2 separate regions of the Homo sapiens genome follow, and region 2 is linked to region 1. Evidence: fine-mapped expression QTL. A gene starts in region 1. The other region holds a variant in brackets. All regions are shown on one strand. Distances are from middle to middle.

Evidence for each region. PIP is the estimated chance that this variant, and not a neighbour inherited with it, causes the effect.
Region 2: its variant is fine-mapped to the expression of PAWR in whole blood (TOPMed, PIP above 0.99).

What each region holds. Positions count from the first base shown.
Region 1 is chr12:79,684,718-79,700,390 of GRCh38, reverse strand. PAWR (pro-apoptotic WT1 regulator) reads left to right here and starts at 9,427. Exons shown (of 7, transcript NM_002583.4): 1 at 9,427-9,519; 2 at 10,000-10,662. The coding sequence starts at 10,147. It overlaps PPP1R12A-AS2 (PPP1R12A antisense RNA 2), which reads right to left and starts at 10,359. Exons shown (of 7, transcript NR_187531.1): 1 at 9,995-10,359. RefSeq lists silencers at 9,130-9,429, 10,200-10,719.
Region 2 is chr12:79,583,449-79,599,121 of GRCh38, reverse strand. It overlaps PAWR (pro-apoptotic WT1 regulator), which reads left to right. Exons shown (of 7, transcript NM_002583.4): 5 at 2,464-2,611; 6 at 4,689-4,793; 7 at 6,429-14,243. The coding sequence ends at 6,515. Among named protein-coding and RNA genes, the nearest start is that of PPP1R12A-AS2, 99 kb to the left of the region's middle. The variant G/T (reference allele first, on the strand shown) is at 6,497.

The DNA of each region.
Region 1 (15,673 bases):
CTGGGTGGGCACCATCTAATCAGCTGCTGCTAGAATAAAGCAAGCAGAAGAAGGAAGAGCAGACTTGCTGAGTCTTCCGGCCTTCATCTCTCTCACATCCTGGATGCTTCCTGCCCCTGAACATCGATTCCAAGTTCTTCAGCTTTTGGACTCTTGGAATTATATCAGTGATTTGCCAGGGGCTCTCGAGCCTTTGGCCACAGACTGAAGGCTGCACTGTTGGCTTCCCTACTTTTGAGGTTTTGGGACTCAGACTGTCTTCCTTGCACCTCAGCTTGCAGATGGCCTATTGTGGGACTTCACCTTGTGATCATGTGAGTTAGTACTCCTTAATAAACTCCCCTTCATATATACATCTATCCTATTAGTTCTGTCACTCTAGGAAACCCTGACGAATACAGATGTCAAACTGGCAAATGGGATATGAGAGTGACTCCTAAAGCCATGGTATTCCATGGATTCACCTAGGGATAAAGTGTTGCATGAGAAGAAAAGAGGGCCAGTGATTAACTACTGAGAAGACTTTAGTTTTCACAGATTAAGCAGATGGGGAGGAGTGGGTAAAGGAGGCTGAGAAGGAGCATCCAATGAAGTTGGAGGACAAAATAAAACTTTTTTGGTGATTTTTAAAAAGTTACAAGAAGGAGGATTTTAAAAATGAGGGAGTCATTTGTGCTGAATAATACAGAAAGGTTAGGTAGGATAAAAAAGATATGAAGCTTATTGATAATTTTGACAGGAGTGGTGAATAATAAGTGGAGTGGTGAGGACTAATGACCATTTGGAAATTATTATAGAAAGAATGGTAAGGGTGGAAATATCAACAGTGACTAAAGATAACCCTTCCAAAAATTTTGACAGTGAATTATAACATTGACCAGATTAGATTCTGGAGTCAAGGGAAGTTTATTTCTTTAAGGGGGCATAGTAAGTAGATAATGGCCTCCAACAACTTCCAGACTATAATCTCTGGAACTTCTGAATGCATTAAGCTACATGGCAAAGGGAAATTAAGGTTGAAGATAGAATTATAGTTGCTAGTCACCTGACCTTAAAATAAGGAGATTATCTTGGATTATTCAGGTGGTCCCAATGATCCTTACAAGTAGAACATAGAGGCAAAAGAGAGAATCCTAGAGAGATGTGTCTATGGAAGAAAGGCCGAGAGATGCACCATTATTTGCTTTGAGAGAAGAGGACCACCAGCCAGGAATGTGCGTGGCCTCTAGAGGCTGGAAAGGGCAAGAGCATGGATTGTTCTCAAGAACTTCCACAAGGGAATGCAGCCTTGCCAGTTTCTTGGTTTTAGCCCAGTGGGATCCAGGTAGCACTTCTATCCTACAGAACTGTAAGATGATAAAGGTGGGATTTTTCTTTTAAAGATGCTAAGTCTTTGGAACTTTGTTACGACAACAAAGAGAAAACTAATACAGAGGGAATTACTAGAGCTCATTTGTATGCTGAAGGGAATGATTTAATAGAGAAGAAACTGATTATGCATGAGAGTATAATTGTAGAAGCAAAACCCTCAAAAGGGGAAAGATACAGGTGGCAGGACAGCCTTTAAGAGGAGCAGATAACTTCATTTAATTAAGAAGGCAGAGAGTAGATCTAGATGCAGGAAGATGGGTAAAGCTGTCTTGGGCAGATAAGCCCTACTCTGAGTGGTGCTATTTTAGAGTCAGTGAAGTGTGAAGGCAAGCTCATCAACTGAGAGTGAGGTTGGTATAAGGAGGTATTGGAGGCTTAAAAGACTGATATAAACTAGTCATTTTGGAGTACAGGAAAGCAAGCTTACTAGGATTGCCAGATAGTATGGACTGCCTAGTTAAGACTATGGACATGCATTAAAGTTGGGTTAGGAAGCATGCCATAGTGTTTTTAACTATCTTTCTTTAGGTGAGCAGGTATACACAGAAGAGGCTAATAATTATAAACTTTAGAACTAAAGCCTAGTAAGGAAGTTAGGACATGGAAAGGAAGGATAATGAAAAATTAGTAGGATCAATAGATCAAAAAATGGTTGGAGTGGGGGTATGAGAGGAAGTGTGCTGAAGAGTTAGGTGGTAGTGGTTGAAAATGGAATGTTCAGAACTGAGATTTTGAAGATGTACTTATTGATGATGACAAAGTCAAGAGATATCTAGCTGAAGAGGGGGTAAAGAGGAAAAATGTTATTTGGAGTGAGGAGGTCAAGTATCTGAGATGCCAGGAGACTGGATAAATTATCTTTGTAGATGTTATCACTAAGAACTGGACATAAAGAGGAGTGGGGAGAAAGAAGGTTAGCTAGCAGTTAAAGTCCTCAGTAAGTAAGAGTGACTTGGAAGTAGGCTGACAACAGGAACAATGAGTTGCTCCTTGTAGAGAGTGGTATAGTCTGATGGCACTAAAACCAGTCTGTGGGAAATTCTTCCAATCATGAGACATGTAAAATAAGCAGAGAATTAGGTTTTCATTGGCATTTGATATACTTTCCTATCAGGAATAGATATTCTTTCCTATCTGGAATATATGATATAATGCTGAGTATAAAATTATGAATGGCCTATACATTATTTTCCTTTTTGAAGTAGATTTTTTTTGATGTACAATTTATAAGAGTTCTTGTGTTTGTGATGCATAAACCTATATACTTGTACTACAAATAGTGGATATATCTGCATGTAAAGACATGTACTTTATGCATCAATAAGTAATAAAATCAATAATAAAATGCATACAAAATGGCATAGAAATATGTCAGAGAGTAAATGAATAGGGTTTTTTCCTGGATTTTTGTGATATTTATGGCATTTTTCAATTTGTTAAAATTTGTAATTTAAAAAAATTTCTCACTTATTCTAAATATTTATTTTCTTACGGATTATTTTTCTTATAGAAAGTCCACCAAATTATGTAAGCTTCAGGCACCATAAAATCTAGGTCTTCCCTGGATAGGCCAAAAATCTGGTCTAAGATTACCTACAGGCAATTGAAAACAGAATATTCACTAGCTATATGAAAAATAGTTTTACTATATGGTTAAAAAAAGTTCCAAAAGAGAACCACATCTATTCTTAATATGGATGTCAGAAATGTTTTCTAGGTTTTTGATAATAGGAATATATGTAATATAATGGGCCACACCTTCAAAAAAAGCCTACAGAAAATAAAACAAATTTTTAGAGCTCTTTCTTATAGTGTCAATCAATATGGGCTTATGATGTAAATCACTGAGGACAGAAATAAGATGTAGACGTCTCTGCTGATCTGGACTTATGGAGTAGATTGCAAAGTATCTAGAAATCTGCAAAACAGATGAATTGGACTTCCTATTAAATATAACAGGCTGAACACACGTGTTTATCTTTACTTCCTCAAGTAACTTCACTAAAACCAAAGTAAAATGATAAACCAGTAACAACAAAGAGGATGAACAGTAAGAACAAAATTTTGGAAGATGAAAGATAGAAAGCAGACAGGCTTTAGCAGAGCAGAGTAAGGTAAATTCTAACAACCTGCAAGAGACAAAGCCAATAAGAAGTAATCTTTTTTTGTCCTGCAGATCCCTGAAGAAAGGTTCAGAATTGGAGGCAGCAGCATATACCTCTGAAACAGAGTGAAGGATGGGGATGAAAACAGAAGGATTAGTTGAAAATCTACACAAGGAACAGTTAGATTCTCAAATCCCTTCTGCAGGGCTCAGTAGCAAGGAGACTATCTCTCCTGATCCTGGCAGAGGACTGGAAGTTTTCACATTGTACAGATGTTGAATTACAAACGCACTGAAATTGGGTACGTCAGATATACTAAGTATAGGGATTAAGTGAAAACCTGCGTATTGAGTAATGAGACTCCTCCAGTCTTCTTTCCCTACTTGGCACCTGAAAAAATTGGCAACTGACAACACAAGCAGAAATAGTTTTACTCAAGGAAAATTATTGGGCCAAAAGAGAAGCTCCATAGATGCTGAATTTGACACATGCCTCCAGAAAATGTCTGCGGCCAAACACCGGCTCCCTAAATGAGGCCCATCAGTCCAACAAGGTCTTCCTTTTCACATAAGAGCTTTCAATCAGCTTTGCAGTGCTTCAGTCTTAAATATGAATAAACTGATGAGGAAGTGCTCTAACATGAAAGATGAAGATTAAAACAAACAAAAAATGTAGGCAATTTGCTTAGAGGACAAAATGCTCAATATGTATCATAAGACCAAGATGCTACAGAAAAAAATATTTAGAGAACAAGAAAGAGATATTAGAAATAGTGTCCGAAACAGAAAATTCTATAGAAGAACTGGCATACAAAGTGAAGGAAATTTCACTAAAAGTAGAATAACATGCCAAGGAAATGAAAAATAAAAGAGAAAAGAGAAAAAATTTGTTAGAGAACTTCTAGCATTCCAACACCTACTTAACAGGAATTCCAGAAGGCAGGAACAGAGAAAGTAGAAGGAAAGTCTTATAAAAGAAAGAGAATAGGCCAGGCACGGTGGCTCACGCCTCTAATCCCAGCATTTTGGGAGGCTGAGGCAGGTGGATCATGAGGTCAGGAGTTCAAGACCAACCTGACCAACATGGTGAAGCCCCGTCTCTACTAAAAATACAAAAATTAACCAGGCGTGTGTGCCTGTAATCCCAGCTACTCAGGAGGCTGAGGCAGGAGAATCGCTTGAACCCGAAAGGTGAAGGTTGCTGTGAGCCTAGATCAGGCCACTGCACTCTGACCTGGGCGACAGAGCGAGACTCCATGTCAAAGAAAAAGAAAGAGGATAAGAAAATTTCCTAACTGGAAGGCAGATAGCTGATTAAAAGGGTCCACTGACTGCATAACATAATAATGATAAAAGACCAAATCAGAGCATATCTTCAAGATATTTCAGAGGATCTAAGTAAGAAGATCCAAAAATTTTGAGACAGAAAATACAATGCAATCAGAATGCCACTGGTCTTCTAAACAGCAACTCTGGAAACTAGATGATAATAAAGCAATGCCTTCAAAATTATGAAGGAAAATGCTTTCTAACCTAGAGTTCTATGCTCCACCAAACTATTAATCAAGTATGAAGATAAATTTAAAACATTTTCCAATATGCAAGGTCTCTAAGAATGAGTTATACTATCTTCAGAATATACTGAGGATATACTCTGCTAAAATGAAGGGGAGAAACAAAAAGAGAAAAGTATGCAATTCAGGAAACAAGAAGTCTACAGAGAAAATGATTCTCAAGGTGTTAGAGGAGCATAATCCCAGGATGACCACAAGCAACGAGCCTTAAAATCAGTCCAGATTAGGCCAGGTGCGGTGGCTCACACCTGTAATCCCAGCACTTTGGGAGGCCAAAGCAGGCTGGTTGCCTGAGCTCAGAAGTTCGAGACCAGTCTGGGCAACATGGTGAAACCCCCGTCTCTACTAAAATACAAAAAATTAGCTGGGCGTGGTGGCATGTGCCTGTATTCCCAGCTACTCTGGAGGCTGATGCAGGAGAATTGCTTGAACCCAGGAGGCGGAGGTTGCAGTGAGCCAAGACTGCGCCACTGCACTACAGCCTCACCAACAGAGCGAGACTCCGTCTCCAAACAAACAAACAAAATCAATCCATATTAAAGCAGGGGATGGAGGGCTCCAGAACAGATGTTTCCAAAAAGAGAATAGAACTGATAGCTTACCCAATGTGATTAACGTCATTGAGAGGAGGAAAATTTGAGTATATACTTGTGACTGGTATATAAAAAAATAAGCCGATGATTAAAGAAAAAAAAAGAGGCAAGTTTTAACTGCAGAAAAATGGTAAAGACAAAAGGTATAGTTGTGCAACAAGGAAAAACAGTTGTAAAAAAAAAGAAATGCAATCATATACACCACATGACTCAGCTATGAACAGTATTTGTATAGTCATAATACTACGGGCGTGTAGGAGTATGAAAAGTATATGTGTGGCCGGGCATGGTGGCTCATGCCTGTAATCCCAGAACTTTGGGAGGCCGAGGCGGGTGGATCACGAGGTCAGGAGATCGAGATCATCCTGGCTAACACAGTGAAACCCCGTCTCTACTAAAAATGCAAAAAAAAAAAAAAAAAAAAAAAAAAATTAGCCGGGCGTGGTGGCAGCCACCTGTAGTCCCAGCTACTCAGGAGGCTGAGGCAGGAGAATGGCGTGAACCCGGGAGGCGGAGCTTGCAGTGAGCCGAGATCGCGCCACTGCACTCCAGCCTGGGAGACAGAGCGAGACTCCATCTCAAAAAAAAAGAAAAAAAAAAGAAAAAGAAAAGAAAAGTATATGTGTTATTAGTGTATTAGAGCTAAATCCTCTTCTATATCTAAAAATGGAAAAATCAAGATGTACAATAGCAGATATGCACATAAAAAATAAATATGAAGATCTCTATTAATGGAAACAGTTAAAAAGTTCAAAGTTTTGGGTAGGGTTTTCAGAATGGATAAGGTAGAGAGGGGATTGCTGTTTTTTGTTATAATCCTTGTAGAACTAAAGTATGTAATTTTTTTATCCTATGCACATATAATATTTTGATGTTAGAGGATGAATTGCATATGTTCCAGAAATACCTGCATTGAAGGCAAAATGGCTACTTCCCAATACACTAGCTATCCATACATATAATAATACACTTCCTCAAAATCATTAAGACTAACATCTAGGTTTCACTCTGACATATTTAAATGAATCTGTTTTTGTCAGCATTATCATCATATTTCATTTTATTATTAAGGGCAAGTGAGTCGCTAAAAATTGGTTATTTTAGGCTAACTCAGAGGTGCTCAACCGGGGAAGAATTTTATCCCAGGGACCATGTGGCAATGTCACAATACAGGTGGGGGTTTCTTATTGGTATCTAATAGGTAGAAGCCAACGATGCTGCTAAACAACCTACAATGGGCAGGACAGCAAAGAATTATCCAGCCCCAAATGTAACAGTGCTGAGGTTGAGAAACCAAGCTCCAAGTCTTTGAGGATTATTTCATCAGAACGCTATACATAAAGATTGATGATATGCAAACATCTTGCAATTTAGGACTGACTCAGCTAAATACCTCGGTGCAATGTTGGAAGCAGTCTGGCTGTGAAATATATCTTCGGGAATATTGAGAATGGTAAAGACAAAAGGTATAATAAATGATAATAATAACAAAACACAGAGCTTTGTACCTCAATAATCTCTTTCATCCATGGTTCCTAGGGCACTTTATAGACTAATAATACCTACTCTGGTACTCACATACCACCTTTTATCTAAGGACTGCAGGCACTTTCACAACACTCTCACGATGCAGGAAGTATTATTATCCCCATTTTATATGTAAGTAAACAGAGGCACAAAAGTTAAGCAACTTGCCCAAAGCCACACAAGTCAGTAGCAGCCAAAATTCCTGACTCAGAACCTATTAACACTAAGAGAACTGGTCTAAGCCATGCAGTGATAAATTTATGTGGGGTGTTATCCTAGTTCATTCAAAGTCTATCGTTTTTAGGCTGATATTGTATATTCAATACCCCATCTGTTATAATTTCCTCTTCTCCCATACACTTCTTAGAGACCAAGGACTTTAAGCCCCTAGAAGGGACTATGTTTACTGAGTGCCTTCCTCGAATCAAGCACATTTTATGTGCAGTGTCAGTTCTTAAGACAGCTTAAATATAATGTAATTGGGAGGCTGAGAGCAGGAGAATTGCTTGAACTCAGGAGGCGGAGGTTGCAGTGAGCTGAGATCCCGCCACTGCACTCCAGCCTGGCGACAGAGCGAGACTCCGCCTCAAAAAAAAAAAAAATGTAATTTTTGCTGATTTTATAGTACAGAAAGCTGAGTACCAGATAATGTAAACATGCCCAAGATCTCTCAGCTAGCTGACTATACCCTCTTTCCACTATATCCTGCAGCCCTTCCAGGAGAAAAGTCCTCTGATAAGTTACAAAGCATATGAATGTGAATACGTTTAATGTCCCAGCCTCCCTTACTCTCCTTAAAACTCAGAAAACAAACTAATGAATATGTAATTGAGAAACTTCAGGTGGCACACTGGGGTTGGTACTAGCTTAGGTAAACAGCCGCTCAGCCTTTTAGACCTATTCCCAACAAAAGCTTTTAATTTTCTAAGGATTTTTCCAGAGCTCTCGCCATACGTTTCCCACAACAGCCAGACCAAAGACCAAAACTGTCTTTCCCTGAGAAATATAGAGCATGTGAATCACTTTCTTCTGTTCCCAGTTCTGTGGCAGGCAAACACTGATTGCTCACTCATCATGTGCTACCTGGGCAAAACAGGAATATTAAGTAGGAAGAAAGGTTTATGTTAGGTAAGAGCGTGACTTAGGGCTCTCCTACTTTTTTACAAAATGGAGACCTGGCATTTGTAGCCTCCCACAATGATGTGCCCTGACATTACTTGGATATAGAAAGGTCAGTCTTAGGTGCGTCAGTGACAGCCCACCCCGCTCTGATCCAGAAATTTCAGATGACTTGCATCAGAGGATAAGCCTCTGGCATGTTAATAATGAAAAAATAGAGACAATCACTGCCCCAGCTCATCTCAAATTAGCATCAGTGCAGCGTTAGTACTTTGGTAGGGAGCTTTGCTGCTAAATTCATTCTCTGTAAAGAGGAGAGGCAGAGACAGGGTTAAGGGGAAAACTCCAAGACTGGAATCGCCAATACAATAAACTGTCGAACTGAGTTTTTTCTCCCGCAACCCTAAGATACTAGTAAGTCCTTCCTCTTAGCCAACCCTTTTCACCAGGGCACCGCAGTTTTCTTAGAAGGAGGGTGCTGGGTTTGTCTCAGGTCTTTCTATTCTCCTGCCCGCTGCCCTAGTACATCTGAAAAGGGAGCAGCGACTAGGAAAAGAGACACGTGGGTATTTTCCCATCCTGTCTAGTCATTCCCTGAATCATCACAAGTTATCGCACTTTTCCCCTTAGCCAGCAGCGTTCGAGACTTTCTCTCAAATAATACGGTCTTGTACTTAAAAGGAAGAGTGGTGGGAGAAGAGAGAGGCGGAGAAGACAAGCAAGAAGGGCGTGGAGTGCCGTTCCCGCCCCGGAGTCGGAGGCGCCGGGAGGCCGGACGCCGCGAAGCTGCTAGCCCAGGAATGTGCCGTCTAACTCGCAGGCCGCGGGCGGAGCGCGGCGGGCGCGCTGTGGTCTGCGGCGGGAGCGGGGCAGAGGACGGCTGGCGCAGGGCAGGCTGCAGCGGCGGGCCGGACGCGACGCCGCGCACCTGAGCGCCGGGGGCGGGGCGTCAGCGGCCACGACCCTTCCCACCGCGCGCCGCGCCCCTCGCGCGCCGCCTCGGCCTTTTCCGCTCGTGCTTCGGCGCCGCTCGGCTCCCTTCCCGCCCCTGGCTCCCTCCCTCCCTCCCTCCCTCCTTCTTCTCCCTCCCTCCTGTCCTGGGATTGCCTGGAGCTCCGCACCGCGAGTTTGCCGCGGCACTTTCCGCGCGGCGGAAGAGCGCGCGCCAGCTTCGGCACACCTGGGAGCCGGATCCCAGCCCTACGCCTCGTCCCCTACAAGCTCCTCCAAGGTAAGGCGCTCGCTCACACCCGGTCCTTTCCACGCTCGGCGGGACAGCTGGGTCCCCGCCTCCTCTGCGAACCGGCTAGGAGCTCCGCGCCTCGCCTTGGGAGTGGGGTTGTAGCTGACGGGGACCTCGGACCGGCGGTGGCTAGAGCGCGGAGCAGGCGATACGACGAGCCGACAGGTGGCGGGTCTAGCCCTAGTATCTCGACCGCCGCCGGCGCGGACCTTGGTGGGGATGGGGCGGGCGGGCCGACTTGGGGGTGGGGTCAGTCCTCTCTCCTCCCTTCTAGGGGCGGCGATCGTCGGGGTCCGTACTGTAGGTGCGTGGGAGAAACTTTGCAGGGTGGGGACCCGGCGGCTGCTGGCCGGTAGTGACTGGTGGGCGCGCTCGAGGACTCCAAGGGGCGCAGCCCGGGGGCAGACCCTTGGGTCGGGCGGGGATCTTACGCTTCCCTTACCCGCCCCCTTTTGTCTTTCACCTCAGCCCCGCCGGCTGCTGTGGGAGCGGCGGCCGTCCCTCTCCTGGAGGTCGTCTCCTGGCATCCTCGGGGCCGCAGGAAGGAAGAGGAGGCAGCGGCCGGAGCCCTGGTGGGCGGCCTGAGGTGAGAGCCCGACCGGCCCCTTTGGGAATATGGCGACCGGTGGCTACCGGACCAGCAGCGGCCTCGGCGGCAGCACCACAGACTTCCTGGAGGAGTGGAAGGCGAAACGCGAGAAGATGCGCGCCAAGCAGAACCCCCCGGGCCCGGCCCCCCCGGGAGGGGGCAGCAGCGACGCCGCTGGGAAGCCCCCCGCGGGGGCTCTGGGCACCCCGGCGGCCGCCGCTGCCAACGAGCTCAACAACAACCTCCCGGGCGGCGCGCCGGCCGCACCTGCCGTCCCCGGTCCCGGGGGCGTGAACTGCGCGGTCGGCTCCGCCATGCTGACGCGGGCGGCCCCCGGCCCGCGGCGGTCGGAGGACGAGCCCCCAGCCGCCTCTGCCTCGGCTGCACCGCCGCCCCAGCGTGACGAGGAGGAGCCGGACGGCGTCCCAGAGAAGGGCAAGAGCTCGGGCCCCAGTGCCAGGAAAGGCAAGGGGCAGATCGAGAAGAGGAAGCTGCGGGAGAAGCGGCGCTCCACCGGCGTGGTCAACATCCCTGCCGCAGAGGTGAGCCGGGCGGGGGCCGCAGCCGGACCGGGCCGGGGCGGGCAGCTGCCTCCCGGTGTCTTCCTCCTGGGAGCTACCCGGGGCGCAGAGTTTACCTCCCCTGGCTCGTACTTGTCCCTTCACCGAGTTAGGCAGGCAGGGGGTGATGGAGTTTTACTCTGAACAAATGCTTCCTGGGAAGTTCCCCAAACTCAGAGTAGGACACGTGCTTTTCAGGCTTCCTGGCCAGGTCTCAGATCCAGGATCCTTTTTTACCGTGGTAGAAAGACAACTTATGGCTCCAGGACTTGCCCACCTGGACTTGGCTGACTTGGCCACCTGGACTTGGCTGTTTATGCTTGATCAGTTAGAAAAATTGATTAATGGTGACGACATTCTCTAGGGTCTCACGTGCCCATGTGAAGTTACCAGTTTATTTCTCCTTTCTTACCAATGTTTAATAACATCTGTAAAGAAAATGTTGCCTTAGCAATATCCAAGACAGCTTTATCTTACAGTGAGCTCAAGATGAGTATATCCAAATGAATACGTGCACTATTTTATATATAAATCAGCTGTTTATAAGTTGTGCTCCTAAACACACAGTGTTTTTCTGAGTGATACTTAGGACAATAGGGATGATTTAGTAACCCACAATTCTGTTCGCTAAGACGATCTCTTTTTGAGTACTGTGTCTGAAAAACATGTGGTAGGGTTTTTGTTTGTTTTGGGTTGTTTGCAGTTTGGAGCATTTTCGAAACGTTACAGGTAGCAGCATCTTCCATTAGAGTGACTGGTAAAACATTTTTACTAAGTGTATAATCACACCTCCCTCTACCAGAAACAAGACAAAACAATCTCAAACAAGTTTTGATTACTTTGATAGTAGCTCATGGATTTGAGGAAGTGGTTCAACTACCTTGTTTCACCTAAAATAGTTGCATCTTTTTCTCATTGACTGTTTAGCTTTCACTTTTTCTTCTCCTGGCTTTCTAATTTTACTCAACTTTAATTGTGGTTTAAGTAGAAGCATTTGCAATAAGTTAGGGTGTATATTAAATATACCTAAATTTTTAGTATTATGATTTCCATACCTGTTAAATCATAGTGTGTCTTTGTAGGACGTATTTATATGAGCGTTTCAGAGATTTTTATCAGCCAGCAAAACTGTCCTCTGCGGTTTGCTACTTGCACAAAAGATCTGTTATTCATTAAATTGCTTTAGAAGGAATTCGTAAGAGTGGTAATCAAATTTCTAGGTGTTTTTTTTTTTTTTTTTTTTAGTTAAAAATATGAAGATTAAGGGGAAATTGAAGACAAGGCTTTGGAAAAGCTACATTCCTCAACTTGATTTTTAAAAGTAGCTGATGATCCAAATAAAAGAATTTGTCATTTTCAATCTTTTCCTCATTGTTCATCTGACAGCGGTCTTATTTTGGGAAATATCTTGGCAGATGTTAAACTTCACTTTTTTTCTGGCTGCATGTGCTAAAATTATTTTTCAAGTACTTTTTTTTTTTTTAAACAAGGGTAATGTTTACTGGGGGAAGTAAGTAGAGTGTATCTTGTGAGATCCTAAGAAACATCTTTTGTTAATACCCCTGCTTTGAGTAAGAGAACATAGTGCTGAGAATGTAGATGACTTCCCACTACAATGGAGTCTAATACTCTGGAATGTTTTTCGTTTGGGTGTTGGCAACTCCTAAATTTAATCTTCCCTGAAAACAAACAAACCAAGGGTACCTTTTTTTTTGTCTGTAGAGTTTGAACCTTTTTATTGAATAGGGAATTGAGGACTGCTTTCTTTTAGTGGTAACTATGTCTCTGTCCGTTTCAAGCTGCAGGACCCAACAAAACAGTAATGCTTCACTACAGTATCTAATTAACAGACATACTTCTTGAGCGCCTCCTCCTCATATTTTCTTATTTTTCAAAACAACTTATGTATTTCAGATTATTTTAATAGTGGTAAAATATATGATGCAAAACTTTAAAGCTGAGCCATTTTCATGTGTTTATATTGTTGCTTTTTTAGAATTGTGCCATTTCTCCTGGTAGTTTCAACATTGAGAATACCAGTTGCTGTGGAGTTTCTTGTGTAATATTTAATTTAGCACCCCTGTTTTAAAAAGTCATACATATTTTGCAAATTTTTCGGGTATGAAAATAAGTAAAAAGATGAAAATGACCAATCTCTTTATATTCAAAAGTAGACTTTATTTTATCTAATGTCGAGTAAGACTCTTATTTTCAGACATGATTCCCAACCAAGTCTGTATTAGTAGATTAACATGTAGTTCATATGTAGAGATCTGGTTTTAATGGTGGATAAACATTAAGTTCCTTCAAGGAAGTACTTATGAAACATCTGTGTGATACATTTATTGTGACTTTCATTACCTCACTTTACTAGTTATAGAGTGTATATATAATACTGTTATAAAGGTATCTGACAGCAGCTAAAGATACCAGAATTGACTAGAAGATAGTTATAGGCAAGGAACCAGGTCAAAAACCGAAACTAGCTATTTGGGAGGTAGGAAACTGGGTGGTTACTGCATGTGATGGCTGAAGTCGATCTATCCAGAGCTTCTTTAATGAGATAAAATTTACTAAGAGTTTTAAGAAAAATATCCTTTTTTCTAAATTTTTACATTTTCTATTTTTTGGTAGTAATTCACCTGAACTGGGTAATTTGGACGTGGCATACTTCTTGCCAGTAATTTTTGTGTGTGTTTATCAGATCAGTCAAATGTGTATTACATACCTGTTAAAGACACTATCCTTAAGCAGTGGAGAAAATAAGAACACGGCAGTGTATATTCTCAAGGAGCAAGGCTATAATCTAGGAAGAAGGATAAGGCATAATTACATGAAAAAATTTAAGTACTGAGTTAACAGTTTAAAAGCCATCTTAATGAAGCATGTAACTATTTATTGGAAATAGTGTGTGTTTAAAAGGGGGAGATGATTGGGCTGGGAGAAGCTATTGAGGATGAGAATCTTGACCTGAGTCTTAAACTTTTCAGTACTTGTATATTTTTACATATGTTCTCACATATGTACATGTATACATAATTGTTTGTATAGTATATTAAGTACCGACATGCAGTGGTTCTTAACTTGAGCAGCACATTGATAGCATGTTAGGATCTTTAAAAAAATGTTTGCTCATGCTAATTCAATTCCGTGCCCTCTTTGTCCCTTCACCCCACCCTGTAATATTGAATGGGTCTGGGATGGATCCCAGGCATTAATATTTTTATAAGTTCCCCATTTGATTCAAATGTGAGTCAGTGATAACAACTGTTGGACTGCAGTCTGGGTATAGAAATGAATAGGACATAAGCCTTGCCCACGAGGTGCTCTCAGGTAATATAAGGAAATGTGAAAAGTAGAGTAGTAAGTATAGCTTAGTGCCTGAGCAGGGTACCTAACCCAGGGAGGAGGAGTGATAGTTGAAGAAAGCTTCCTAGACAGTTACATACTTGTTTCCAGGGGGTTTGTGAAGTTACTGCCATTGAGTAGGGTTGTGTGAATGGGTTAATGGAGATGGGTGCCATAGAAAATGTAATCTTTGAATAGGTAGAGGTGGCACTGAAGTTTTGGTTTAAGTATAAAAGTTAACATATACAGTATTTAAAACTTCTGTTTTAAAATAGTGGTTGGCTAAAGTGGTTTAGCTTTAGTGGTTGGCTAAAGTGCTTTATGTACTGAAGTTCACAGCAATCTCATGTGGTAGTTACACTGTTTATCACTATTTCCAGAGGAGAAAATGAAGACTTAGAGCTTAAATGATTCAAGATCACATAGAAAGTAACTGATAGAGCAATATTTTAAACATTTTTGTGTATTTTGTGTGTATGTATATATCTAGGGAAAGGGGAGTTTTTAAAAATTAACCTACTTTTCATTATTCAGCATATTTCCCTAGATTTTTACATAACTTTTTATTAAAGATTATCTTAAGTAATTTAAACATCTGAATGAGGAAAACAGTAAAGGTATGGAATTGAATAGAATTTCAGGTCAAATTTGTGGACTCAGAGATTGCCTCTGACCCTCTAACCTATAGAGTGGCAAAATTTTGAACACCAGGCTCTCGGCAAAACGTAAATTTATTTTTGGCTAGTGGTCAGAAAATGTGAATCTTTGATTTTACCTAAGTGATATATTGTTTTTCTATCAAGATGGGGTCATGACACCTACTCCATAGTTTGAACTCGTGTTGGTGAAAGGGAAGATAAAGGAGCATTTAACATATAGAAAGCACTTTTAAGTGAACACAGGTTAGGTCATAATTATTTAGTATGTTTATTGAACATTATATATAGGACAAGTTCCACTTAGTAAACTTTATAAATCCAGGTGGATTAAGAAATGCCTTTTGTTATTCCCATTATGCTCCAGACTGTCTACCTTTCTGTGTGATGAGTCAGGAGAGAAACTAATAATGACTCAGAGTTGGAGAAAATTTGATTCGTGAATGGGGTAGATATAGTGTAAACACTGAGACTGTTTAGTGTAAAACCTGGGCTATTAGCCCAGCTTTCCTAAATGTTTGAGCTCACTGGTAAAGTAAATTGAAATTTTAATATTATCAGGATTTGTACTGAGTTGTCTGAGCTGGGATGTCATTTCTCATAAAAATAATAATTACATAATTAAAGTAGATGACATTTATGGTGTGCTTATTAAGTGCCAGGCACTGTTCTAAGCACTTGACATACATTAGTGCATTTAATTCTCACCACAGCCCTATGGGAAAATGGGGAAGAGAAGGTATGTTACTTGCTTCAGGTCATACATGTAGTGAGAAGTAGATTAGAGATAGTTTGCACTCACAGTCTTGTGCGTAATAAACCATCTTACTACACTTCAGTGTATTACATACTGTATACCTAGTTTAAGAAATACAAAGAATATTTTAGTGTTAAATTGTTAGTATATGACTATGGAATTTAAAAATAGCCCTATTTATAGAACATAGATGAAGTGAGACTTTAATGGAAAATTTTGAGAACAAATGAAT
Region 2 (15,673 bases), 100 kb after region 1:
AATATGTGAGTTAGCTTTTTGTCTGATGGCCTTATTCTTTATTTTTTAAGTGATCTTAGCTTTCCATGCAAAGAAGGAATGTCAGTTGGCCGGGCGCAGTGGCTCATGCCTGTAATCCCTGCACTTTGGGAGGCCGGGGCAGGTGGATCACGAGGTCAGGAGCTCAAGGCCAGCCTGGCCAACATGGTGAAACCCTGTCTCTACTAAAAATACAAAAATTAGCCGGGCATGGTGGCAGGCGCCTGTAATCCCAGCTACTCAGGAGGCTGAGGCAGGAGGATCGCTTGAACCCAGGAGGCGGAGGTTGCAGTGAGCCAGAAGGCTTTTCAATGGCAGATAAGATCAGGTGACAAAAATGAAAGTTGGATTTTTGAGGAGAAAGTTACCTTAGCTGGTTATAAAGGGTTCTACGATATAGTAACAACTATCAGTAAAGTAGATGGTGATCTTGGTATTGCACATTTGAAAAGGTTACAATCAAATACCTTACAAATTTGATAGGACACTTTTATTTTCTATCACAAGAAAATTCATAGGTAAGAAATTCATAGATGAGGAATCAATTTTTAAAACGAGAAGTCACTTTCGATTTAACTGTAAATTTGCTGGATAAATTATTGGAAATGGATACCAGTCAGTGAAGGATTGAAAACAAATTTTGAAAAGCAAATTTTCTACATTTTTGACAAAAGTTTTTAAAAATGAATGTCCGAGCTTGTTGAAATTGCATTAAAATCACTGCTATTTCTGTCCTTTGAGACTGTTTTCTCTGATTGCTATTAAAACAAAACACAGAAATAGTTTAGATATACATTATCCCTTGTTGAGTAGCATTGTCCTCGGTCCAACCTAGATTAACAAATGTAGTAACTGGCTTTCAAGATAGCCCCCAGTGAACCCTACCTCCTGATGTTTGCACTGTGTATAATCCTCTCACACAACATACCAAGTTGATATGTGTGAACAATAGAATAAGGTCAGTGTGATAGTATGTCACTTTTGAGGTTGCGTTATGACCGACACTGCAGCTTCTGTCTCAGTTGCTCTGTCAGTTTGTCTCTGGAAGCCAGCTGCCATGTGGTGAACAGGCCAGTGGAGAGGCCAACATAGTGAGGAACTGAGGCTGTTGTCATCAGTCATGTGAGTGAGCCTAGAAGCAGATTCTCCAGCCCAGTTAAGCCTTCAGATGACTGAAGCCCCAACCAACATCTTGATTAAAAACTCATGAGAAGCCCCGAATCATAATCACCCACCTAAGCTGCTTCTAAATTCCTGACCAACGGAAACTTTGAGATAAGAATTGTGTGTAAGTTTGGGGGTAATTTTTAATAGAATAATACAGGAAACAAGAAGCAAACTCATTTGTTACATTAAAAACTTTAAATACTGACATATGTGCTGTTCAGAGGGTATGAACTGGTGTTTAAGGAATTGCTGTTTTACTTACAACTTTTGATTAAGTTAGAATTATGGCATAACAAAATTATCAATATGGTAGCAATTTTCTGTATTGATTGCCTGTATGCATACTTATAGTGGAGAATTTGCCACTGATGTAACTCTTTTCTTTTTTTCTATTTATAATTTTATGGGTCTGAATCTAATAAAACATTTGGACTTGTATTTTGTATGACCTTTTTAACTTTTATTTTTCCAGCAGTTCATTTTAATTTTACTTTTTAAAAGTGTTGGTCCATGAAAGATTGTAATTTTGAAGAAGGAAAGTGGTTTTTCACCACACATAGTCTGGGCGATCTAGGCCAGGCACAATGCTCACATCTGTAATCCTAGCACTTTGGGAGGCCGAGGTGGGTGGATCGCTTGAGCCCAAGAGTTTGAGACCAGCCTGGGCAACATGGTGAAACCCCGTCTCTGAAAAAAGAAATACAAAATAATTTGCCCGGTGTGGTGGCCACATACGTGTAGTCCCAGCTACTCAGGAAGCTGAGGTGGGAGGATCTCTTGAGCCCAGGAAGCCGAAGCCACAGTGAGCTGTGATTGCACCACTGCACTCCAGTCTGGGTGACAAGAGTGAGACCCCATCTCAAAAAAAAAAAAAAAAAAGATAATCTGGGAGATCTGTCCTATCGTAGTTCTCATAGTATCCATCACTGACCTTATTTTACTGATCATCTTGCTTTATTATTAGTTATATTCCCTTTTAACCAAAAGCTCTATGAAGGGCAGAGTCCATGTTTGTGTTTGCTGTTACGTCTTCAGTATCCAGAACAGTGTTCGTTACTTAACACCTATTCAGTAGATATTGGTCGAAAGAATTAATGGTACTTTTACATTTTTTTCATTGTGTGGGAATAATGATTAACTTCTACAGTTACAAATAAGTTGCTACTATAACCATATGTCCTTGGGGAATGTTAATTTTTTTAAGCTCAATAGAAAATATTCTTGGCATTTTTCTTGCTGAATACTAGGGATTTTAATAAAATGTTTATATTTCCACAGCACAACCAGTGTCTCTGAAGAAGATGTCTCAAGTAGATATTCTCGAACAGATAGAAGTGGGTTCCCTAGATATAACAGGGATGCAAATGTTTCAGGTACTCTGGTTTCAAGTAGCACACTGGAAAAGAAAATTGAAGATCTTGAAAAGGTATGGATTATAAGTTATTTAAGATTGATAAAATTAATATACCATTAGAATTCTTTTGTTTCATAGCAACTGAGTGAGAAAGGAAATAATATTCCTTAATATTTAATATGTGCGCTTTTCTGCCAACTGTTACCTTTAGTATATTAAAAGCCCTTGTTTTTGAAGTGGTTAGAAGTCTGAGCTGGCAAATATATACTACTGTGTATTTATTATATTGTCTGAATAGATTTTCATTTGTAACTTTACAAATTACAGGAGTAAATCTGAGTTAGGTCCATCTTTGGTGTTTGAAACAATTTTGTCTAAGAATATGCCTGTTTAAAAGTGTCTTTCAGTGCAAGTCAGATGACTCTTGGCATAAATTTATTAACCATAGGGTCTCAGGTTTGTGCCATAGACATTCAACCCCTAAAATTAGCAATGGTGTTGAATACTTTTGTAATTGTTGAAAATGTGTTTTGTTTTACTTGAGATTATTCTCTATATTATTAAAGATCTAATTTATATATGTTATGTAAAGAAATTTCATTTTTAAAACTTGTTTCTATTTTATAACATTTATGATTTTTTGAGGTCACATTTCTAAGCTTTAACAACAGTTTCTTCTTGGAATTATTATTTCATAGTTTTATTTATTTTTATTTATTTATTTAGTTTTGAGACAGAGTTTCGCTCTTGTTGCCTAAGCTGGAGTACAATGGCTCAGTATCGGCTCACTGCAACCTCCACTTCCCAGGTTCAAGTGTTTCTTCTGCCTCAGCCTTCCAAGTAACTGGGATTACAGGCATGCACCACCAAGCCCGGCTAATTCTTTTTTTGTATTTTTAGTAGAGAAGGGGTTTCACCATGTTGGTCAGGCTGGTCTTGAATTCCTAACCTCAGGTGATCCACCCGCCTCGGCTTCCTAAAGTGCTGGAATTACAGGCGTGAGCCACTGTGCCCAGCCTATTATTTCATAATTTTAAATTAAAAAGTTTAGACAATATGTAATCTAATAGTTTTGAAGATAGTTGCCCAGAAAGGCTTCGTGAGTTCCACAAGAGTTTGGATTGAATTGCTAGTAGTTGGCAGCAGCTAAGGGATATGGATGGTTGATTGCTCTGTAGGAGGTTTAGTAAGAAAGAAGCCAAGTTCTGGGCAAGGCCTTTTGAGCTCTGCTTCCCTTTTGCCCCCAAGGTGGCTGACCAAGCCCAGTGCCCTGGATTCTAAATAAGATGTCTTTGAAAAAGATGTTGCATTGTTTAAAGAAAAAAAAAATTAAAAATCAGTAATCTATTTTAGTTCCTTCTTTTTATCCATTATCAGTTAACTGGCAGAGCCAGAAGTAAAACTGAGGACCATTGTTTTTCTGTTTAGAGTTTCTATTGGGCCATCTCCTTTAAACTTTGTATTTTTAAGAAAAATTAATTTTGAATTATTTCAAACAAGATACCCATTAAAAAATAAGGTAGTTCATAACTTATAGTGGTGATAAGCTAAATAAGTTAAATCACAGGCCGGGCACAGTGGCTCACGCTTGTAATCCCAGCACTTTGGTAGGCTGAGGCGGGCAGATCACTTGAGGTCAGGAGTTCGAGACCAGCCTGGGCAACATGGCAAAGCCCCATCTGTACTAAAAATATGAAAATTACCCAGGCATGGTGGCATGCACCTGTAATTCCAGCTACTTGGGAGGCTGAGGCAGGAGAATCGCTTGAACCCAGGAGGTGGAGGTTGCAGTGAGCCAAGGTGCCATTGCACTCCAGCCTGGGTGACAAGAGTGAAACACTGCCATACATACATACACACACACACACACACACACACACACGAGGTTAAATCATTGAGTCTATTACATTAGTTTTGTTAAAGACTTGTATAAACATAGCTTTACTCAGGAGCATCCTAATATCTCCTGTGCATTCTCTGATTCCTTTTGTGGTGGGATCTTTGTTCCTTCACCAAATGTCTTAAGGGATTCATTGGAAATCTTCATGTATGTAAGATATTTTACCAAATTGGGGAGATATATGCCACTTAGGAAGATTATAAATAAACAATTACTTCCTAATTACTGGTTTTTAATTGTATCTACCAGGAAGTAGTAAGAGAAAGACAAGAAAACCTAAGACTTGTGAGACTGATGCAAGATAAAGAGGAAATGATTGGAAAACTCAAAGAAGAAATTGATTTATTAAATAGAGTAAGTATTTCACCATATTTCAGGTTTGGAGGGGTTTTTTTTGGCAATTGGATGAAAATATATAAATATGAAGAAATTATTAATTGCATTATTCACTTTGTTCTTTTGTTAGTGAAATAATAATTAGTAAGAGGTATCATTTTCTTCCAAAAACTGATTTCCTTTGGGCAGTTATCAGTTTAGCTCACTTAATTTTATTCTTTTGGAGATAGACTGATTTATGGATTTGTTCTCTGTTTTGTTAAAATCTGAGGGTGACAGGCGCTTTGTCACTACCATATGTAAGGGCACTGGCACAGAGTTGCCTCAAGAAATATCTAAAATTGGCCAGGCGCTGTGGCTCACACCTGTAATCTCAGCACTTTGGGAGGCCGAGGAGGGCGGATCACGTGAAGTCAGGAGTTCGAGACCAGCCTGGCCAACATGGTAAAACCCCGACTCTACTAAAAATATGAAAAATTAGCTGGGCATGGTGGTGGGCACCTGTAATCTCAGCTACTCAGAAGGTTGAGGCAGGAGAATTGCTTGATCCCAGGAGGCGGAGGTTGCAGTGAGCCAAGATTGCGCTGCTGCACTCCAGCCTGGGCAGCAAGAGTAAGACTCTGTCTCAAAAAAAAAAAAAAAAAACCCTAAAATTGGTACTCTTTATTATTATTATTATTATTTTTTGAGAAGGAGTCTCTCTCTGTTGCCCAGGCTGGAGTTCAGTGGCGCGATCTCAGCTCACTGCAACCTCCACCCCCCGGGTTCAAGTGATTCAAATTGATTACATCAAGATTTATTATTTTAAACTGCAAGAATAAATCTATAAATGTCTGCTTTTTTAACAGTAAAGAGTCTGTCTTGAAATAATGTTTCTTGTAACTAAAACTTATGGTGAATTTGTTTTAACCAGATGGTTGTGTGTTTGGGACAAGGATTAATACAGGGAAAAAAGAGCTGGATCATATGCTTTTAAAGCTGGAGAGCGAATACTTAATTTAGTGGCTTTGAATTAATTTTAGCTCTAAAACCTTTCCTTCAAAATGTCGTAGAAAAGTCCAACATACAAATTGATCTGGAGCTGAAAACAAAATTGATCCAGATCAAGATACTCCAGATCCCCTTTTCCGTAGGCCTCAGTTTTGTCACCTCTCCAGAGTGTTATCCCCATTGTACACCTTTAAAGATCAGACAGTGGTAGGAGTGCATCTAGAACTTGTACCTGCACCTTTTGATGACTAATTTGACACAAGGTTGCAACCTAGGGCTCAATACCATATATGGCTTGCATGGGTAGTTTTTTTTTTTGCCTCAGTTTTAGGGAGGGGAAGTGGAGTTTGTTTAGCTAAAAAACTAACTTATTTATGATGATTGAAAATTGGAAGATTCACAATTTTAAAATTCTGACTTTCGGCTTCCTTTGAAAAACTGAAAGATCTGTAAGAGTTGGCCTATACACTTGTTGTAAGAACGAAGAGTCAAGTAATGGATGCTCTTTTTTGGTGGGGCATATTACATCTAAAGTTGTTTTCAGAGCTTGCCCTCATTTCAAAATTAATTGGTTGTATGAATTATTTTTAATGTGTATTAAGTGTTTTCATCTCTCCTCAAATATTTTTAAGTATTTTTAAAGTGTCTTTTTTTTTTCTTAAGGACCTAGATGACATAGAAGATGAAAATGAACAGCTAAAGCAGGAAAATAAAACTCTTTTGAAAGTTGT[G/T]GGTCAGCTGACCAGGTAGAGGATTCAAGACTCAATGTGGAAAAAATATTTTAAACTACTGATTGAATGTTAATGGTCAATGCTAGCACAATATTCCTATGCTGCAATACATTAAAATAACTAAGCAAGTATATTTATTTCTAGCAAACAGATGTTTGTTTTCAAAATACTTCTTTTTCATTATTGGTTTTAAAAAAGCATTATCCTTTTATCTCACAAATAAGTAATATCTTTCAGTTATTAAATGATAGATAATGCCTTTTTGGTTTTGTGTGGTATTCAACTAATACATGGTTTAAAGTCACAGCCGTTTGAATATATTTTATCTTGGTAGTACATTTTCTCCCTTAGGAATATACATAGTCTTTGTTTACATGAGTTCAAATACTTTTGGGATGTTACCTTCACATGTCCTATTACTGATGTGTGCAACCTTTTATGTGTTGATGACTCACTCATAAAGGTTTTTGTCTACTGTCATTTGTTCTTTCCACTTATTCTAAGCATTTAGAGTAATAGAGTCATACTTTTTTATAACAGCAACCTTTTAAAAGGAAAGCTCTTATAAAGTCACTGTCATGTTTTAGTTGACTAAATATAAATTTAAGAGAATACTTGAATTGTGCTATAGTAAATAAAAATTTACTATTTTGTGTTTGAATATTGAAAAATTGAATCACTTTAACTCCTGAAAAACATACAATTGTAATTTCAATGTAAAATTTCTTATGTAGGTACTACCTTTTTTTATCGTTCCAAGGTTTGCTAGTGAACACAGGATATTTTAAAAGTTTTTTATTCTTCGGGCCTGGAAAGTGTACAAAGTCAGTGTAGGAGAAAAAAATCCATATTTTTATATTAGCATGCACACTAAAAACCAAAATATTATTCATACTTAAAACATTCATACAAAACAATATGTAAGCAGAAATAGTACTAAAATACTTTGCCTAATTTCTAAGTTGAAGAATAACACTGGGACACAGTTTTTTCATATGAGAGAATATTCCGCTATTTCAAATTTAAGGGATTTTCTTCCTAACATTGAAATTTTAAAAACAGAGTTACTTCTAAATAATTATACAGATTTTTTCTTCTATTAAATATTATTATTTAGAATTGTTTTTGTATTACATATTCATGTTAAGAACCCCGTCTTCCCTTAAAATACATTAAAATTATGACATTTTTGCTTTGTGATTGAATTTCAAATAGCAGTATGGTATCCTTTTATCTAGTTAATATATGAAAGTGGCTTGAATATAGTCAAATCCATTTTAGGTACTCTACTGACTTTTTCCTTCACTTGCCAAGCCCTTTTATTGTTCACTGTTAGAAAAATAGAGAAGGTGAGACAGCTGGGGGAAAATGTGGAGTAAATGATAATCAAATGTTGAATTCTAAAAGTCTCTACATTTACCTAGGTTGGCTTTCTCCCCCAGTTCAGAAGTTTCCAGCTTGGCCAATCATCAGAATCACTTGAGGAACTTAGAAAGAACTCCCTGGCTGTAGCTCCTATGTAGGTTTAGGTTGAGACTCTGGATTCCACAATTTTTAAAGGTTACCATCTGAGGTTTCTGATCATAGTCTACTTTTGAAGCAGCTGCTGCTGTTTCTTTATTCCATTGAACACCCTGGAATTGACATAATTTTATCTATCAGCATTTCTCCCCTTTTAGTTTATTTAATAATTAACCCGGTCTCCAGGGCAGTTTTCATATGACCATGTGTATATTCACTGCTCACGAAAAAGTTTAATGTTAGATTACCAAATTTAATATAGTTACAGAATTACTGCATAAGGGCTTCCCTTCTTGGAGACTCTTACCCAGCATGGGAACAGTGATCTGCCCACATGACAGGGTGGTATGCCAGGCATAGTTAACTGCTTTTGGTTGTGAGGTACTCATCTTCCTTTAGTTACCCTTAGTTATGTGGCACACATGTCCTTATTGCCTAGTTCGTCATCCACACTTTGGATCTTGTGAAAATGCTGTTAGTATCCAACCTTAAAATATATTAGTATATGGGTTTTTATTAAAAGAATTACTTTGAATTTTCTATTTAATTCATATGTAAATAAAGGAACATTTCATTTCACTTAAAAAAATTATATCAGTTATTAGGCTGGGTGCAGTGGCTCATGCCTGTAATCCCAGCACTTTGGGAGGCCAAGGCGGGTGGATTACCAGAGTTCGGGAGTTTGAGACCAGCTTGACCAACATGGAGAAACCCCGTCTCTACTAAAAATACAAAATTAGCCAGGTGTGGTGGCGCATGCCTGTAATCCTGGCTACTCAGGAGGCTGAGGCAGGAGAATCGCTTGAAAACCCAGGAGACAGAGGTTGCGGTGAGCTGAGATTGCGCCATTGTACTCCAGCCTGGGCAAGAAGAGCGAAACTCTGTCTCCAAAAAAAAAAAAAAAAAAATTATTAATACTTTTAAAGACTGAGCTGTTTAAGAATTTTTTGGGGAACATTTCTAGCAGTGATTTTTTTGGCCTTTAATGATAGCGTAAAGACAGGAGCCTTACAACTTAGGCAAAGCATTTCACATGCAGTCCTTCTTCCATCTCAAAATATGTACTTATTTTACATACAGAATTTTACACTAACCATTGAAAAATAAAGTAGGATCTGCTACAGTTTCACCTGAAAATTTATAAAAAGTGTTGAGATTGGTAGAAGGTAGTTTTTAAGTACATGTGCACTACCCTAAAAGACTTGTCTATTGTCAATAAAGTGTTAGTATTTGTGAAATTATTATTCCTGTTCAGAAATACTATTTCTTAAATCTCCTGGGAATTTGTGGCATAATAAAGCACATTCAAAGTTCTAATGTATTTATGAGCTCATTTTCAAAATAGTAAGTTTGTCATCTTTAAAATGAACATGACTTGCCTCCTTGATTTCTGAAATGAATTAATTGAAGATTGCTATAGTAATCTTTATTTCATCTTTCTAGAGTTGTTGACAATTTTATTATACAACAGTTACCATTAGAGAAGGAGGGAAGGGCTTTTGGGTGTGTATTTATAGGTACTAAGGGATTTACTAAATATAGTAGATTAGCACTGTCACACTTGTTCAAGTAGTTTCAAACATAGAAAATTAAGTATCAGGTATGTGGAGCAATGTAGTTTTTTTTTTTCTTCAGTTTAAAAAATTTTTAATTGTGGTAGAAGCAATGTATTCTTAAGGTGAAAAACCTACCTCGGTTACATGTGGTTTGTGTTTTTTGGATTAATCTGGATTTTATAATTAGAAATAAAAATGTAAGATTTTGAATCCACTTAATTTCTTGAAAATAGTACAAGTCAGTGTAATAGAGAAGCATTCATATATTCAACACTGTAAGACAAAACAGCAGAGACCTTGGATTTGATAATTGATCTGATATCCTGGACAGTATTCATATGTACAGTGATAGGTATCTTTCTTTGGAGTTTTTTTTTTGTGCATATGTGTATAGTTTTATGGGTTCTGAGTTGGTGACCAGTAAGTTGCATGTAGTGCTGGCACTTACTTAATAACTATTCATGATATTGTTAATAACTTGTTATAGGATTGTATTCCCAATTACAGTCTCTAAGATTGTAATTGATATTATCTGAGAGGTAGTGTGACAACTTTCTTTTGTTGTTACATTAAGCCGAAAACATAATACTAATAGACAACTAACAGTTTGCTTATCAGGCACATCAACTAAGGCACCTCCCCCCATGCTAAGTTTCTCCTGGATATATGGAAGTTGATTGTTTCCCAGTTTAAAAACTTGAACTAATATCTCCTAAGAAAATCTGAGTCCATATTGTTTTTATTTTACTTAGCTAGAATCTCATAGCATGTTAAAGTCATATCCTTATCCCCACTAAAAATAACTATGTCTATGTGAGAGGAATATAGTATGTGGGAGCTGTATTAAATACTATTACAGGTGTTACAGAATCTTTAAATAAATGGACATGGACCAACTTTCCATCTAGTAGTGTACGATCTATATAGTGCATGTCAGTAGCACAAAATGCAGTCTTAGCATTAGCCTGTCTAATCTGAATAGTTTACTCAAAAGTACTTCTTTGTGTTAAGTATTCAGCCACTGTTTTTAGATCTAGTTAATAGGTTCTATTTAATTTGCTACAACATTTACTGAATGGTGGAGTGAAAAAACTGATGCATACTGGGAAATATCTACCATTTTTTAAAGATAATGTTAATTAGGAAAAGAACACTTTTAAGGAATTTATAGCAGTGATGAAATGAATTCAGTTATATCAGATACACCAAACTGTTGATGGTATTTAAATGTGACTTCAAGTTAGTATTTCTGTATATATTATTGATTACTGGTTTGTTTTTAGATATGTAAGTCTGTTCTAATCTACAGTTCACATATCGACAGTTACTCTGGTAATAATAGAATGTTAGTGATGATCACTTGGTGGATGTTGATTAAGTGCCTGTGTTTTGTTTCCTCCTCTGGATACCAAATAGGTGTATGCTACTTTTTTGGTGAACTTATTTCTTGGAAGATTTGGCTATGCTATTCAGGGTTTTTATTCTTATGTTTTTCTTCTAAATTTAAGTAGCATCCTGCTGCTACCATATTAAAGCTAAAATTTAACTTTTGCTGAAGAATCAGCTAATTCAGGTAATCCAAATATTTGTGGAAAAACATCTGGATAATTTATTGAACACATTAGTATTGTGTTAGACAGCTTTGATCATTCCCATTTCATAGGTTTTTATTGTGGAATAGTCAACTTAATATAGATTCACTTTCAATTTGCATGTATAAAGTAATACTCAATAAAATTTTTTTCATTTATTTTTCAACAGTGGTTATTTTTTTTCTTCCTGTACTATCAGTAAAATCCTGACTATGAGTTTTACTTTTGAAGCTAAAGGATAATGCTGGTAATCTAATTATGTACCTCTTACAGAAACCATATGCAGCACTTTAAAAATCTTTATTTGGTATATTATTTTAGGTGGACAATGATTTAAGACTCAAAGCCATCATATTAAGGTCTAAATACATTAGTGGTGGGGTTTCTCGAATAAATGAGGAAGTGCACAAAAGTTCAGCCTGACTGAAAATTTTAATTGTGTTTTAAAACTACATGAATAATTTCTTGATTCAAAATCAGAACTCTTATAAACTAAATCTGATGGTGTCCAAAGAATTTCAGGTCCTTCAAAGTTTGTAAAAGATAAGTAGGGGCCTAGGAATATAAAAATTTAGACTTTTTTAGTAAATGGTTTACATAACCTTTTGTCTTAATTTGTCATTCTTCATACACAGGCACAAGCTAATCAGTCTTCTCTACTTCTAGAACTCTAAATCTTCTCAGTAATGTCATACAAGTCTAACAAGAGGAAAAGCATCCTTAAGTCAGTCTATTTAGATAAACTCTTCAAGTCCCTATATAAGGACGTATTCCACTAGCAAGCCAGTAAATTTTTCCAAGGTCACATAATCTTACATGAAATGGAACCTTTCATCTTAGACTTCATCAAACTCAATTTTTTCCCTTCTAGATTCACTTTGTGTTTATGCATGCATGCACGCGTGCACACAATTCTATCAGCAGCTGTAAACTACCCACATATTTTCTTAATCTCATTTTTTCAGTTTTTCTTCATCTTTAAAAGAGGTTACATTTCATTCCTGGTCAACTCTTAAAAAGAATTATGTAATGTTGGGCCTTCATATTAAAGAGAGAGACTGGTTATAAGATCCTTTACAGTCCATTCATTTTATTCTGATGTCTAACCAGATAGACACTAGCAAGCAAAACTTCCCTCTTAATCCTGGACCAAATGCATAATTTTACTGTCACTTTCAAAAATCTGTTATGACTGAATCAAAATCCTTTTAAAGAAAGGAAAAAGCTCCTTTTGTGTCAAATAGTTGAACAACATGAAAACAGTATGAGCCGGTTAAAGATAGATTGAATTTTTACTTTACACATATGAAAAACAGTAAGTTTTGACTGCTGTGTATGTTATTCATGTTAATATGTGCTCAGTTATTCACTATTGTTAATCCACATATAATCAGTTGCTATCCCTGGTTAGACACACTATGGAACTTGAAATGCACAATATTTACATTGTTAGAGGCTTCTATCCAAATATCTGCATTCCTTTAAAATGTGAACTATTTGCTGTGATTAACCAAAGGTAGATTATGTCATCAGTGGACATTTTAGCTTTATGGAAACAAATTATTAAGAAATGAATAGAAAGGTGTCTTTTTCTTTGTGTAGTGCAAAAGCCTAAAGCTATCAGTCAAAGGCCTAAGAAATCCACATTTGAAAAACGTAAATCATGATTGGTAAGAATACATTCATCTGATAGTATTGAGAAAAGTTGAAAAACTGTTAGCCTTCCATAACACATTAAACATTTTATGTATGGATGGCTGAAAGTATTGAGAAAAGCTGAAAAACTGTTAGCCTTCCATAACACATTAAACGTTTTGTGTATGGATGGCTTAGGACAATAAACAACATCATTAAAGTAAAATTATGTCAGTCTGTTCATATTAACTTATTTAAATCAATGAAAATTTTGATGAGATGACTAAATGGATGCTTTGGAAATGCAGGATTATAGGAGGCCTAAAAGTGCATCTTGTTTCTTGTAACCCTTTTAAAACCAATATGCCTGGCTAGGTGCAGTGGCTCATGCCTGTAATACCAACGGGGTAACACAGGGTTATGCCGTCTATACAAAAAAATAAATGAGCTGGGCAAGATGGCATGCACCTGTAGTCCCAGCTGCTTGGTAGGCTGAGGGGGAAGGATTGCTTGAGCCTGGGAGGTCGAGACTGCAGTGAGCCAAGATCACACCACTGCACTCCAGCCTGGGTGACAGAGCAAGACTCTACCTCAAAAATAAAAATAATCAATATAGTTTCAATGAAGCAAAGCATCTCAGGTAACAATTTGAGCATAACTTTAACCATAACTTATGATAGCATAATAACATTCATTAGTAATTCAGTAGCCGTATGTGCCAGGCTGTGTTAGGTGCTTTATATATTGTTTAATTTTTAAAAACTTGTGGAGTGTACAGATTGGTAAGGTGACATTGTATCACAAAGCTAGTCTTTGAGTCCAAAGTTTTGTGGTTTTATGTTATGATATACTTTTATCATGGAATTGTCTTATTAAATGTTTTGCCAGTGGTTCTTAAAGTGTGTTTCTGACACCAGTAGCATTGACTTCACTTAGAAACCTGTTAGAAATACAAATTATTTGGCCCCACCCAACACTTGAGTCACAAACTTTGCAGATGGGGCTCAATCTGTTTTAACAAGCGCTTCATGTAATTTTGATGCAGGCCTAAGTTTTTGAGCCACTGCAGTATGCATTTCTATTTTTAAGCAAAGATCTTGGTCTTTCTTTTTGGACATTGTAGAAATAACATGAACTTGTTTTTTGTTTGTTTTTGTTTTGTTTTGTTTTAAGCTCCTGATCTTTGTTGGTTATGTTGCAAAAGATTGTATCAGGAGAAGCCTCAGCATGGACATTGGCATCCTGACATAACCCCCATTAATTTAGTATTCTTTCTGAAACTCAAATGGATTCTCAAGTCCAAGAGACTATGGAATAAAATCATTGTTTGTCTGTGTTAAGTTTTATCTCTGTTATTGCCTGAAGACTTTTGGTAACAATAATGCGCTTTCATCAAACTTTTAAGACTTGATTGGAAAAAATAAATGTATGTTTCATCAGTTATACAATTTGTTTTGTATGTGTTTTGTATGGGTGGTCCCTGAGGAGCCTGAATCTTCAAAATATACTTTCTGTGAGCTCAGAAAATGAATAGCACTTTTGAGCTAATTGATCAGTGTGGAGAAATCACAGTGTTGCATCCTGATGAGTAAAGATAAAATTGACTCTTTATCGATTCAAGATCATTTTTTATATAAATAAATAAGCTACTCCTGTTTACTTTTTACAAACTTGAGAACAGTTTTAGATTTATAAAGTTATTGTGAAGATAGTACAGAGGGTTCTCATATGCCACCACACCAAGTTTCTCCTACTAACATCATACATTAATACTGTGCATTTATCACAGTTAATCGTCCAATATTTATGCACGATTATTAAAGTCCATACTTGATTCAGATTTCCTAAATTTTCCCCTAATGTCCTTTCTCTTTTCCAGTGTCCAGTCCAGGATACTACATTATATTTAGTACCTGTGTCTCCATAAAATTCTCTTGGCTGTGACAGTTTCTTAGATTTTCCTTGTTTTTGATGCCCTTGACAGTTTTTAGTTCTGGGCAGGTATTTTTCACTTTACTATGGATATTTCAGATACACAGAAAAGTACAGAAAATCGCTAGCAATATCCTGCTAATTTTTTGTTATCTGTCCTGCTTCCTTTTTCTTTTTTGTTGGGGTGTTTTAAAGTTAAACTCCAATTATCCTTTCACCTGCAGATACTTCAGTATATATCTCTAATAGTAAGAATTTAAAAGAATAACCACAATGTTATACCTAACAAAATTAATATTAATTATTTAATATCATCTGTTTACTTTGGGTTCCCTAAGAAGCAGGCATGCATGAGATTTATTGGGGGAAAACACTTGTGAAGAAAATTGGAGAGGGAGCTAGAGGAGGTTGAGAAAAGTGTCAGAACTTGATACAGGTCTGCCTGGTGAAGGGGAGAGGAGGATAGTTGGACAGGAAGTCTTAATCCATAGTTGTTTTAGTCCATTTGTATTGCTATAAAGGAATACCTGAGGTAATTGAGAAAGAAGTTCATTTGGCTCATGGTCTGCAGGTTGTACAAGAAGTATGGTGCTAACATCTGCTTCAGGTGAGGGCTTCAGGCCGCTTCCACTCACAGTAGAAGAGGAAGGGGAGCCAATGTGTCACATGGCAAGAGAGGATGGAAGAGAGTGGGAAAAGCAGGCCTTAATGCCCTTTTAAACAACCAGCTCTCATGAACTAGAGTGAGAACTCATTACCTTGAGCATGGCACCAAGCTGTTTATGAAGCATCTGCAACCATGACCGAGACACCTGCCACTAGGCCCTGTCTCCAACATTGGGAATAAAATTTCAACATGAGATTTGGAGGAGGTCAAACTACATCAGTAATTCTAAAAAAGTTTTAACGAGGCTGTTTGGGAGTCCTCAAACCAAATGTTC